Linked DNA regions of Homo sapiens: all the other regions are linked to region 1. The links come from fine-mapping of genetic effects on gene expression. A gene starts in region 1. Each other region holds a variant in brackets. All regions are shown on one strand. Distances are between the middles of the regions. Region 1 holds the start of OSBPL11 (oxysterol binding protein like 11). Region 2 overlaps OSBPL11 (oxysterol binding protein like 11). Region 3 overlaps ZNF148 (zinc finger protein 148).

Region 1 (4,242 bases):
TGGGATTACAGGAGTGAGCCACCATGCCCGGCCGGTTTTTGTTTTTTTCTTTCTTTCGTTGAGACTGAGTCTTGCTCTTGTTGTCCAGGCTGGAGTGCAGTGGCGCAATCTCAGCTTTTAGTAGGATGAGCCGCAGACAAAACCTCTCAGACACCGAGTTGTAGAAGGAAGGGCTTTATCCAGCTGGGAGCATCAGCAAGCTACTGCCTCAAAATCTGAGCTCCCCAAGTGCACAATTTCTGTCCCTTTTAAGGGCTCACGACACTAAAGATTTCACATGAAAGGGTCATGATTGATTTGAGCAAACAAGCGGTACATGACAGGGGCTGCATGTACCGGTGGTCAGAGAGAAACAGAACAGGGCAGGGAGTTTCACAATGTTCTGCTGCACAATGTCTGGAATCCATGAATAACATCGGTTTCTAAGTTATGAGTTGATTTTTAACTACTGAGTTTAGGCCAGGCAGGCCCAGGCCTGGTTTCCGGCCTGGCGCTGGGCTGCCTGTCTTTGGTTTTACTTCCTTGCTGTTTCTTTTTTTCTTAAAACAGGTACTGAGTATAAAACAATATGAGAGGGTCTCTCTCCTTCCTCAGGCTCACTGCAACGTCCGCCTCCCAGGCTCAAGTGATTCTTCTGTCTCAGCCTCTTAAGTAGCTGGGATTACGGGCACGCACCACCATGCCCGGTTAATTTTTGTATTTTTAGTTGAGAATGGGTTTCACCATGTTGGCCAGGCTGGTCTCGAACTCCTGACCTCAAGTGATCCGCCCACCTCGGCCTCCCAAAGTGCTGGGATTACAGGCGTGAGCCACTGTGCCCAGCCTCAAGTCATGTTATTATAAACTAAAATTAGCAATTAGGAGAGACTTTAGAAATCTACCCATGCACTCTTGTTTTACAAATCCAAAACCAAGGCCTAAACAAGGTGAAAGATTTGTCTGGGGTCTGGAAGAGTACCTAGCTCTGTTCTGAGATCTCTAATTTCCATGACAGCTTCTTTTTAATTTATAATAATGATTGGCTTTACTCCAATGTCATGCTTGCCCCCCCCCCACCCCAAGTAACTAAAACGTACAGATGTTTGCTTCGTTCTTGTACTTTCTTATTTTTGTAAGCTTTCTTCCTAAAATGCCTGGAACGGCCCCTCAAATGGAAGGCTAGGACGTGGTTAGGAAGGCGGGCACTCGGCCGGGCGCGGTGGCTCACGCCTGTAATCCCAGCACTTTGGGAGGCCGAGGCGGGCGGATCACGAGGTCAGGAGATCGAGACCATCCCGGCTAAAACGGTGAAACCCCGTCTCTACTAAAAATACAAAAAACTAGCCGGGCGTAGTGGCGGGTGCCTGTAGTCCCAGCTACTTGGGAGGCTGAGGCAGGAGAATGGCGTGAATCCGGGAGGCGGAGCTTGCAGTGAGCCGAGATCGCGCCACTGCACTCCAGCCTGGGCGACAGAGCGAGACTCCGTCTCAAAAAAAAAAAAAAAAAAAAGGAAGGCGGGCACTCACACACCAGAAGGGAACTCTCTAGTGCTGCTGGCTCCTTTGTTTCTTCCTCCTTCACTGTCCGGGTTCCTCGTTCCGTTGCGGCGCCCTCCCTCGCCCTCCCTCGCCCATCAGCCAGTCGCCCAGCTACCAGCTCCCAGAGCCTCCGCCTCCTTCAGGGACCCGCCGCCCTGACCCAAGATGGCGCCAGACGCTTCGGCTGTGAGGGAAGTGAGCTCACGCTACTCCGGAAGGGAAGGCGGGAAGGGAGCAGGGGGCGGGGGGTGGCTGACCCGCTGTGGGGCTGTGGGGCTGTGGGGCTGTGGGTGGGGCGGCGGCCGCGGCCCTGGCATTCGCGCTTGGGTCTGGAGATAGCGCGAGAGACTCACCGGCTCCTGGGAACCCAGTCGAGGGCCCGGGCCAGGGGCATAAGAGGAAGTTGTCCCGAGTGGCTCGCCTCTGGCCCTGGGAGAGGCGGCCCCGGGAGCCGGCGTCCCGCCCCCGGCGGCCTCATTCCCCGACCCTCCTCCCCGGCTGCGCGCGCCGGCCCTGGCTGTATCTCGGGGGCTGCGGCGGGAACTGCCGAGCGGGCTTGACTGGACGCACTGCCTGAGGACCTGCGGAGGAGACGAGGGAGCGCGGCGGGTCAGCCCCGAGGTTAGGCCGCGGGTCCCCTGTCCGTGGCGCTCCGTCCTTTTCCCAGCCGTCTTGGCTACAGAATCTGCGACCTCCCCACACTCCTTCTCTTTTGAGTATGTCACTTAAGTCTTCTCGCCGGATGCTTTTTCCTCCTTGCTTTTGCCGGAAAGGAGAGAGATACATGTGAAGGATATCTGTCCTCGTTGCTTCCCCTGCCCTCTCAAAAGTTTAACTTCTGTGGGAATGTGTATCTTCCTTTTCTGGACCATTTGACAGTCCCGCCCCAGCCGCCGTGTGATTTAGCAACCGGTATCATATTCAGATCAAATCTTAAAAAAAAAAAGTCACCTACAGAACTACAGAATTGTTCTCTCCCGCTCAAGAAGGGCAAGTGGACTTTGGCGTTAAGATGCAGGGGGGTGAACCAGTGTCCACAATGAAAGTCTCGGAGAGCGAAGGAAAGCTGGAGGGCCAGGCCACAGCGGTGACCCCGAACAAGAACAGCAGCTGTGGAGGTGGAATCAGTAGCAGCAGCAGCAGCCGCGGTGGCAGTGCAAAAGGCTGGCAGTACAGGTATGCTCCTTTCTCCAAAATTATTTCCCGAGGTGGAGGTAGGGGTGAATATGCCCTGGAGGCTGCATCCCGCAATTGTTGAAAGATAAAAGTTTTTTCACTGGCTTCCAGAAGCTACTGATACATCTCGTTTGGATCTGGGACCTCGCCTAAAAGATTTAATCCATTCATTTGTTCATTCAACAGGTATTTATGGAAGGCCTTTTGAGGAACACAGAAATGTATCCCTGAACTTCCTCTACAGTCAGAGAGTTAATGCTTCCTCAGATTTAATTCTGTACTCACTTCTGCTTTTGCCTATGTTGCAATTTATTTACAAGCCAGCTTTCTCTGATAGACTGCGAGGGCAGGAACTGTTTAACTCAGCTTTCTCGAGAGGGTAGCAAATACTGGTGCTCAAAACTTACTTGTCCAGAGCTTCTCCAGAATCAGAAAAGATTCTTGCCCTGAAGGTATTTGTGACTTGGAAAGGGGAATGTACATAAGTAATTGGAATGCAAGGACAAAGGTAGAGATCCTAATGCCTCTGATAAACTAAACCTGAGCCTGGAGATGTTCAGTTTGCGTTGCTCAGGCCACTTCAATGCTCTCTGTGTTGATGAGAAAGTCTATATTTGTTAATTTTCACTAATATGAATGAACAACTTAAGGAACAGGAGGAGAGTCCTGGAGAGGCAACAAGTTTTGTTTTTGTTTTTTCATATATGAAGTGTAGGGAGAAAGAACTATCCAGAACCTTAAGAATGAATGAAACAAACCAGCACATCCCATCGTATTGGAACTAAAGGGATGAATTCTTAAGTTTTGATTGACTCCTATGTGCCTAACTGTAGTCCTTTTTAGCCTTTGTGCTTATTTGTGCTTGTGAAATTTTTGTGAAACTTGGAAGGGATTAAAGCCAAGATTTTGTGAGGGATATACATTTATCATGAATAATATTCATATGTATGAAATATGCATGACTATATTAACATATAGAAGTGAAGTATAGAAGATTATAATTTTTTTTTTTTTTTTGAGGCAGAGTCTGGCTCTGTCACCCAGGCTGGAGTGTGGTGGCGCGATCTCGGCTCACTACCACCTCCACCTCCTGGGTTCAAGCGATTCTCGTGTCTCAGCCTCCCGAGTAGCTGGGATTACAGGCGTGCGCCACCACACCTGGCTAATTTTTGTATTTTTAGTAGAGATGGGGTTTCACCATGTTGGCCAGGCTGGTCTCGAACTCCTGACCTCAAGTGATCAGCCCTCCTCTGCTTCCCAAAGTGCCGGGATTACAGGCTTGAGCCACCGCGCCTGGCCAGAAGATAACTTTTTATTGGTAAGTGACTGTAGGATAAGAAGATATATTCAGTTAGTTTGAGAGGTCTAGGCCCGCTTTTGGAATCAGCATGATTTTTTTGTATGTGTGTGACCTGTGGCAGGGGCCGCGGGTCCCCTGTCCGTGGCGCTTCGTCCTGACCTGCTATGGGGCTGTGGGTGGGGCGCCGCCGCGGCCCTGGCATTCACATTTGGGTCTGGAGAGAGCCGGGAGTCTATTAAGTTGGTTGTG
Region 2 (4,242 bases), 59 kb after region 1:
TCTTAATCTAAGCCTTTTCACTAACTGGTGACCTTGGCCAAGTCACTTCACAGGTTGCATCAGCTTTGTAAATTGAAAGCATTAGTCTGATCTGTTGTTAAACCCCTTGCCAGCTGTGAGATTCTTTGATATACAGTCACATTTTAGTAAAAACCAAACATTGTAAATGGAGCAAAAATATTAAAAACATTTACTGTCAAAGAATTACTGTGTGTATCATAAAAACTTTATCATAAAAAATTTTGTTATATTATTAACAAAAAGTCAGGCACCCCAATACAAAAACTGGGCAAAGGATGTAAAGAGGTAGTGCAAAAATATCGGAACATCTTAAATGCTCAACCAAGGAAATGAAAAATTGTTTAGGGTAATTAGAATTCAGAGGTACAAATTAATCAGACAAATTAGTTTTTAAAATAATACTTCTTTGGGGAAAAGGTGTGAGCAAATGGGCATTTTCATGCTGCTGATTAGATGTTAAACCAGTGCAATCTTTGTAGAGGTTATTTTGGCAGTATGTGTCATAGACCTTGAAAAATAAAGTGGATCTATACGTGTTAATAAGGTACAGCTTCCAAAATGTGTTGACAGTGGTTGCTTCTGGAAAAGAGTACTGGGATCTGGAATAGGAAAGAGACTTAATTTTTACAAGATTCCTATTTGTACTGTTTAAATTTTATGTCATGAGGGACATAAAATGTCCTTCTATCAATTAAAAATAGAAAAAAAATATACAGGGAACCACTAAACATCTTACATTAAGATCACATAAATAGAACCAAACAATTTCTAACTAGGTGTGAAAAGGGATTAAATGTCCACAATCAAACATTCAGAGTGGGTCAAAAAATAACAGCAATAATGAATTTTTAAAGAATTCTTACAGGGATTTATCCTAAGGAGAGGGTCTCAAAGTTTGCTTTGCAGACCCCTGTTGGGTCCTTGAGACCTTTTCAGGGCATCTGCAAGTTCACAATTTGTTTATAACAATACAGAGATATTATTTATCATTTTTCACTCTGTGGGCTCTTATGATGGTGCAAAAGGAATGCTGTGGGTAGCACTGGTGGGCCTTAGGACTAATCTAGGCAGTGGCACCAAACGTCACAAGCAGTCATTATATTCTTCACTGCCATGTACTCGCATGCCCCTTTCTCTTAAGATGTCCTTGAAAAAGCAATACAAATTATTAGTTTTTTTAAAATCTGGATTACTGAGTACATGTCTTTTTTTTTTTTTTTTTTTGAGACAGGGTCTCACCCTGTCACCCAGGCTGGAGTGTGGTCGGGCGATCTCGGCTCCCTGCAACTTCCACCTCCTAGGTTCAAGTGATCCTCCTGCCTCAGCCTCCTGAGTAGCTGGGACTGCAGGCATCGACCACCACGCCTGGCTAATTTTTTGTATTTGTAGTAGAGACGGGGTTTCACCATGTTGGCCAGGCTGGTCGTGAACTTCTGACCTCAAGTGATCCTGCCACCTCAGCCTCCCAAAGTGCTGGGATTACAGGCATGAGCCACCGTGCCTGGCCGAGTACATGTCTTATTAGTATTCTGTATGACAAATTGGGAATATAAATAAGTATTTGTGCTGGCTACCGAAGAAATATAGTAGTTATCTGGAGGAAGAGCACTTGTAAAATTTTTTGAGTTACAAGCAGAATTAATCACTTTGTTCATGAAATACCATGTTTACTTAAAAGAATGATTGATAGACAAACTATGGTTCTTCTAATTTCAATGTTAGGTAGACATTTTTCTTGTAAATGAAAGACATGAATGTGATACTTAAAGAAAAACAATTGATGGTATGTTACTAATAATAAAATTTGAGCTTCAAGGCAAAATTAGAATTTTAGAAAATTGTATCTGCCACCATGAACTTGAAAACTTCCCAATTAGTTTTCTGGTGAACTTGGTGCTTATATTATTGAACGTGATTTTTTAAAATATTGTATAGTATGTCAACATCTGGAAGATCTGCATAACTCAATGAACCAGTATTTTTCAAATGACTAATGCATGATATTACAGAATCATGCATGGATAAATGATCCATTCAGGATGCACATTAGACCAGTGGATTTCCATATAAGTTATTTGAAAAAATATTGACATTCTTAAATTTTCCACATTGCAACT[G/A]GCCTTTTTAAAATTACCAGTTGTCGAGTTTTGAAACAGTATGAAAGAATTGAATTATTTGAAAAATCTGTAAAAATATTTCTTCTCTTTTTCAAACTGTATCTGTGTGAGGCCAGAATTTTTTTTTTTTTTTTGAGATGGACTCACTCTGTCACCTAAGTTGGAGTGCAGTGGCATGATCTCGGCTCACTGCAACCTCTGCCTCCTGGGCTCAAGCGATTCTCATGCCTCAGCCTCCCAAGTAGCTGGGATTACAGGTGCACACCACCACACCCAACTGATTTTTTTGTATTTTTAATAGAGATGGGGTTTCACCATGTTGGTCAGGCTGGTCTTGAACTCCTGATCTCAGGTGATCCGCCCACCTCGGCCTCCCAAAGTGCTGGAATTACAGGCTTGAGCCACCATGCCCGGCCCAGATTTTTCCTATATATACTTTAAATCAATATATCACCACAGATTGAATGTATGGGCAGATAAAGAGATGCTTCTGGGCCGGTGTGGTGGCTCACGCCTATAATCCCAGCATGTTGGAAGGCCAAGGCGGGTGTGTCACTTGAGGTCAGGAGTTCAAGACCAGCCTGGCCAACATGGTGAAACCCCATCTCTACTAAAAATACAAAAATCAGCCAGGCATCTCTACTAAAAATACAAAAATCACCTGGCGTGGTGGCGTGCACCTGTAGTCTCAGCTACTCGGGAGGCTGAGGCATGAGAATCACTTGAACCCAGGAGGTGGAGGTTGCAGTGAGCCGCCGTTGAACCACTGCACTCTAGCCTGGGTGACAGAGCCAGACTGTCTCAAAAAAAAAAAAAAAAAAAAAAAAGATGCTTCTGAATTTTATTTGCTAAAATTTTGTAATGAATTTTATAGTTTCTATATACATGAGGGATATTGCTCTGTTCTTTTCTTTAGGGGAAGGTTTTGAATTACAAATTACGTATGTTTAATATATAGGGCTGTTAAGGTTTTCTGTTTCTTCAGTGAGCTTTGGTAGTTTGTCTTTCAAGGAATTGGTTCATTTCAGCTAATGTGTCAAATTTATTGTCATATAGTTCCTAATATTACCTTATTTTTTTATCTGTGTAGGATCTATAGTGATATCCCCATACTTATTCCTTATATTTGTAATATCTTTTTTCTCATCAGTGTGACTAAAAGTTTATTAATTTTACACAAAAAACCAGATTTTGGCTTCACTGATTTAATCTATGTTTGTTTTCTTTCTCATTGAATTTTGCTCTTTTATAAAATCTCTTTTTTTCTCCTTACATTGTAAATAATTTGCTTTTTTTTTTTTTTTTTTTTTTTTTTCTAATTTCTTACAATGGAAGCTTAGGTTAGGGGTCAGCAAACTTTTTCTGTAAAAGGCCAATTAATATTTTAGCCTTAGTGGACCAAATAGCCTCTCCCACAGCTACTCAACTCTGCCCTTATAGCATGAAACATCCATAGACAATAAGTCAATGATGAGACATTGTTAAATTGCAATAAAAAATTATTTACAAAAATGGGCTGTGGGCCATAGTTTGATCCCTGGTTTAGCTCATCAATATTTTTTTCCTAAATGTTTAATGCTGTAAATTTTCCTCTGAGGACTGCTTTATTTCTATCTGATGACTTTTTATGTGTTTTCATTTCGAAATATTTTCTTATTTCCTTTGTGGGTTTTTTTTTTTTAACTCATGAACTTATTTACAAATGTGTTGATGATTTCTAAATGTTTAGAGATTTTCCAGCTAGCTTTCCATTATTTATTTCTAATTTAGTTTCATTTTGGTGAAAGAATATACTTTGTATGATTTTAATTCTTTATTTAGGTTTGTTTAATGATTCTGAATATGTTCTGTCTTGGTAAATGTTTCTTTTTTTTTTTTTAAGACAAAGTAGTGTCTTACTCTGTCGCCCAGGCTGGAGTGCAGTGATGCAGTCTCGGCTCACTGCAACCTCCACCTCCCTGGTTCAAGCGATTCTCATGCCTCAGCCTCCCGAGTAGCTGGGACTACAGGCGTGTGCCACCACACCCAGCTAATTTTTTTATATTTTTAGTAGAGATGGGGTTTCACCATGTTGGCCAGGCTGGTCTCAAACTCCTGACCTCAA
Region 3 (4,242 bases), 320 kb after region 1:
TACCCTTAGACATGTAATCTTAAAAAGTTGAGAACTGCCAATTTCTCAGTCAAGTTATTAATGATTTAGAAATTAAATATTCTAGAGGATTACTATAAAGGAACACATACCGTAAAAACCTAAGTCTCATTTTAGAGCAAATATTTATTTGCATCTATTTTTGCCAACGGTAAAACCAACTTTTATAAGTAACTTTGATTTAGTAGTCTGTTGACTTTGCCTTTGTTGCCTCTAAGCATGTTGAAAAGTGTTTCTTTAGAATTGATTTCCAGTGTTTTGCTTTTTGTGATGGAATAAAAGCAGAGTTGGTAAATTTGTATAACTTTGAATTTTACATTTGAATAGAATTGAGAATTGTGATAATATGAGAATATTGAAAATATTTAAGTTCTTCATATTTTTCTGTTTTAAGTACTCAAGCAAGTACCTGCCCAGTGTTGTTATTTTGATGTGTTCTCATGGGACCTGCAGTATTTGTGAAAGGACAGTTTGTCATATAGAAACAACCTTTTCTGTCTGATAACTTTTTTTTCAATTTTCTTTGCCCCCAAAAAGAAGCCTGAATGTGTCTGGTCTGCTTAAATAAAACTTTAACTGGGCTGGGCTCAGTGGCTCATGCCTGTAATCTCAGCACTTTGGGAGGCTGAGGTGGGCGGATCACTTGAGGTCGGGAGTTCGATACCAGCCTGACCAACATGGAAGAAACCCCGTCTCTACTAAAAATACAAAATTAGCCGGGCATGGTAGCACATGCCTGTAATCCCAGCTACTCGGGAGGCTGAGGCAGGAGAATTGCTTGAACCCGGGAGGCGGAGGTTGCGGTGAGTCGAGATCGCGCCATTGCACTCCAGCCTGGGCAATAAGAGTGAAACTCCGTCTCAAAAATAAATAAATAAAATAAATAAATAAATAAATAAATAAAACTTTAACTGTGCAACATGTCTGTATGCTTGGATGTTCTACTTTTTAACAATCATTTTGCACATTACTAGTTTCAGTTTTTTAAGTAAACGTATTCATCTCTTTTTATTAGAAGGGGCTATACTAGGCACTGTGGGAGAAAAAAATTTATAGATTTTGTGTGACTTATAGCTAAATTTAAATTCCTATATAACAATAAAACCTGATCAGATACAAATGAAAGTGATTATTTTTGTGTGTTCTTAATACCTAATAGGTTTTGATATTTTACTCATTCATTCAACAAAAATTTATTGAGCATCCAGTGTTTTTCAAGCACCAGAAATAGATAACAGAAGGCAGTTTCTTTCTTTGGAGTTTACGTTCTTGTGGAAAAACAGACGTGGAAAAACACACATATAAGCAAGCACAGTGCAGTTAAGTGTTGTAGAATTTTATACAAAATTCTCAAGATACTATTGTGCCCTGAGGAAGAGACACATGTGCTGTCCGTTCTTAGGGCAGGTGTCACAGAAAAGCCACATGAGGCTAAGTTAAGAATATATGTGTGTGGGTGGGTGTGTATCTGAAAAAAATATTTTTGAAACAATACTCACCTTCATTGCACTGTGATATTTTGTGTGTGAGTATGAATTCTTTTTTTAAAAAAGTGCTGGTCACAATCCTGTAATCAACTGCACTAGACCATGGGGAATCTTGGATTTAAGCAGAGTATAATGGGTTGTTAATGTTTGTTTAGAATTTACTAAGTACCAGAAAACTGTGTTAAATATCTCATTTAGTCCTCACATTAATCTTGAAAGGCAGGAGTTATTACTGTCCCCATTTTATAGATGAGGAGGTAGTAAGAAGTGCACATAAGTTAAGGAACTTTCCCAAATGTATATATCTAGTAAATGATGGAACCAAGATTTCAGCTCAAGCCTCTGTGAGTCCAGAGTACACATGTGAAATCACTGGCTATGCAGAATGGGACTAGAAGCAGAAAGTTATATTTGGGCCTTTTTGAGTTTTTCTTGCTCTGTCACTAAGCCAATTATGGCTTAGCCTTCCTATAGGTATAGTAGCATCTAAAAGTGGTAGAAGCAAAGGCTGGAGTTCTCATGTTAGAGAGAACAGTGTAGAAGAAGATAAGGAGTTGAGAGGAACCAGGGCAAAGCAATCACTAGGGTTCCTTAACAAAGAAAAGTTCTTTTGAAGAGAGAATCAATTCTGCCCTA[T/C]TGTTCCCTCCCTACTAGGTGGAACTGATATAAGGGGATAGTTTTCCCTTCTTTACTTCGTATTCTTGATTCTTTTTATAGATTCTTTTTAAAGACAGTAAAATGTTTTTTGTTAAACCTATTTGGGAATATATATCTAGAACCACAAATAGGTCTCCATCATTTATTATTCTGTTCTTACTGTTCTTCCTTTCATTTTCTAAGTGACTTTTATTTTTGGAGGAGGGTAGTGCCCTGAAGTTTGCCCATGTGAAGGCTTTCTTTATTTGTAGGCCCTTAGTTTAGAAGAATGCATTTAAATAGTTACGGCATTAAAAAAGATTTTCCATATTTTTATCCATTTTTAAATTGTCAAATGAGTAATGAGTCACCTAACCGACCCTCAAAGGTTGGTGAAAACCATCTGCCCTTAAAGGCTCCATTTTCCATACATCCTTCCTTCTCCCTTTAGGTCTCATTATACTGTCTTCTCCTGGTCCCTCAGGCCTCCAAGCCCATTCTCTGCCCCTTTGCAACATAGTTAAAAATCATTACTTGCTTGGTAGCTGTGGCCAACAATAAAGAAACCTGTGTCTTATTAAAACCAAGAACATAGTTGATTTGGGTTCAAAAGGAAAAATTTTTAATGTGCTCTAGACAGGCTATTATTTAATTCCATTTCCTACATTTGGGCTTGTCTATGAAACACCATTTTAGGGGAGAGTACTTTTTCATCCAGAGGCTGGTCCCTGAAATTCTGGTTTAAGCTTTATTCCTTTAGACTATGGCACTGAAAACTGCCACATTGTAAATATCCTCAGGACTGCTATTTTTGGCAGTTATGGGAGATTTACCTTTTTTGTGAATATTATATTTTTTGTGAATATTACAGATCCTTTATTTAGGTGATGTTTTGGATGTGAGAGAGAAGATGAGGATTTGAGGCTAAGGTCGAAGATAATTATAATTGATCATTTTGTTTAGGGCCAGGATTACTGATCAAGCGCATATCAAGGTTAAACATTTATCATCATTGGCAGATTTCCTTGTGGATCAAGTACTTTTGTCTGACGTGCCCTTTCCTTGTCTAAGGTGCCTATTTTAAAAATGCATATATAGAATAAATGTTAGAATGGCATATATCCATAGTTGTGTTATTTTCTTCTCACCCCGTGAGCATTTTACTCTAAGAAACTGCCAGTCTTATCACCAAGAGGGATTGAGGAGTAAAAAACTTAAGTACAATTTTTAATTTTATTTTTGTAAATTCCTCTAAATAGTAAGCCACAGAATACCTATCCTGATGTTCTGTTATACAAATTATGGTAGCTTTTTAGTTATGCCAGTTTTCATAATTTATTTTTTATTTCAATTAGTAAAAATGTTACGAAGCTATTTCTATAGGGAAGTTTTTATAAATGATTCTCCTCCCGGCCGGGTGCGGTGGCTCACGCTGTAATCCCAGCACTTTGGGAGGCCACGGCAGGCGGATCACGAGGTCAGGAGTTTGAGAACATAGTGAAACCCAATCTCTACTAAAAATACAAAAATTAGCCAGGCGTGGTGGCACATGCCTTTAGTCCTAGCTACTCGGGAGGCTGAGGCAGGAGAATCGCCTGAACCTGGGAGGCGGAGGTTGTGGTGAGCAGAGCATGCCATTGCACTCCAGCCTGGGCAGCAGAGCAAGACTCCGTCTCAAAAAAAAAAAAAAGATTCTCTTCCCAAAAAAAAGAGATTTTTGAAAAAACTAAATCACTCAGAATTATATATGTTCACTAGGTTTCTTTTTCCATAAGGTTCTTTTTTAAGCCTTTAGTTCTTAGATGTATACAGTTCTCTCTGTAAAAATATAAAAACACTGGAAAACCTGTCATCTAAGTTAGTGTTCTTCATGCCTGAAAACACAGCAGTCCTCTTTTTCTCTTTACTATGACTTTTATTCACAACTGTATTAAATAGCTGTATTAAATAGCTGAATAATAACAGCATCTTATTTTTGTAAACCAGTTGGGCTAATGGGGTGGGGTTAGAGAGAATGTTGATTTACTCTTGACTAACTTAGCTTAACCCTTTATATTTCCCTTAGTATGGTTCAGTTATCGATAAAAATTAGTTTTCTGCT

Evidence for each region. PIP is the estimated chance that this variant, and not a neighbour inherited with it, causes the effect.
Region 2: its variant is fine-mapped to the expression of OSBPL11 in whole blood (INTERVAL, PIP above 0.99).
Region 3: its variant is fine-mapped to the expression of OSBPL11 in substantia nigra (GTEx, PIP above 0.99).

The regions. Positions count from the first base shown.
Region 1 is chr3:125,593,088-125,597,329 of GRCh38, reverse strand. It overlaps OSBPL11 (oxysterol binding protein like 11), which reads left to right and starts at 1,833. Exons shown (of 13, transcript NM_022776.5): 1 at 1,833-2,693. The coding sequence starts at 2,530. RefSeq lists a silencer at 1,716-2,125 and enhancers at 2,226-2,285, 3,246-3,305.
Region 2 is chr3:125,534,163-125,538,404 of GRCh38, reverse strand. The region is part of intron 11 of OSBPL11 (oxysterol binding protein like 11); the gene reads left to right. Among named protein-coding and RNA genes, the nearest start is that of SNX4, 16 kb to the right of the region's middle. The variant G/A (reference allele first, on the strand shown) is at 2,139.
Region 3 is chr3:125,273,089-125,277,330 of GRCh38, reverse strand. All of the region lies in intron 7 of ZNF148 (zinc finger protein 148), which reads left to right. Among named protein-coding and RNA genes, the nearest start is that of SLC12A8, 62 kb to the right of the region's middle. The variant T/C (reference allele first, on the strand shown) is at 2,142.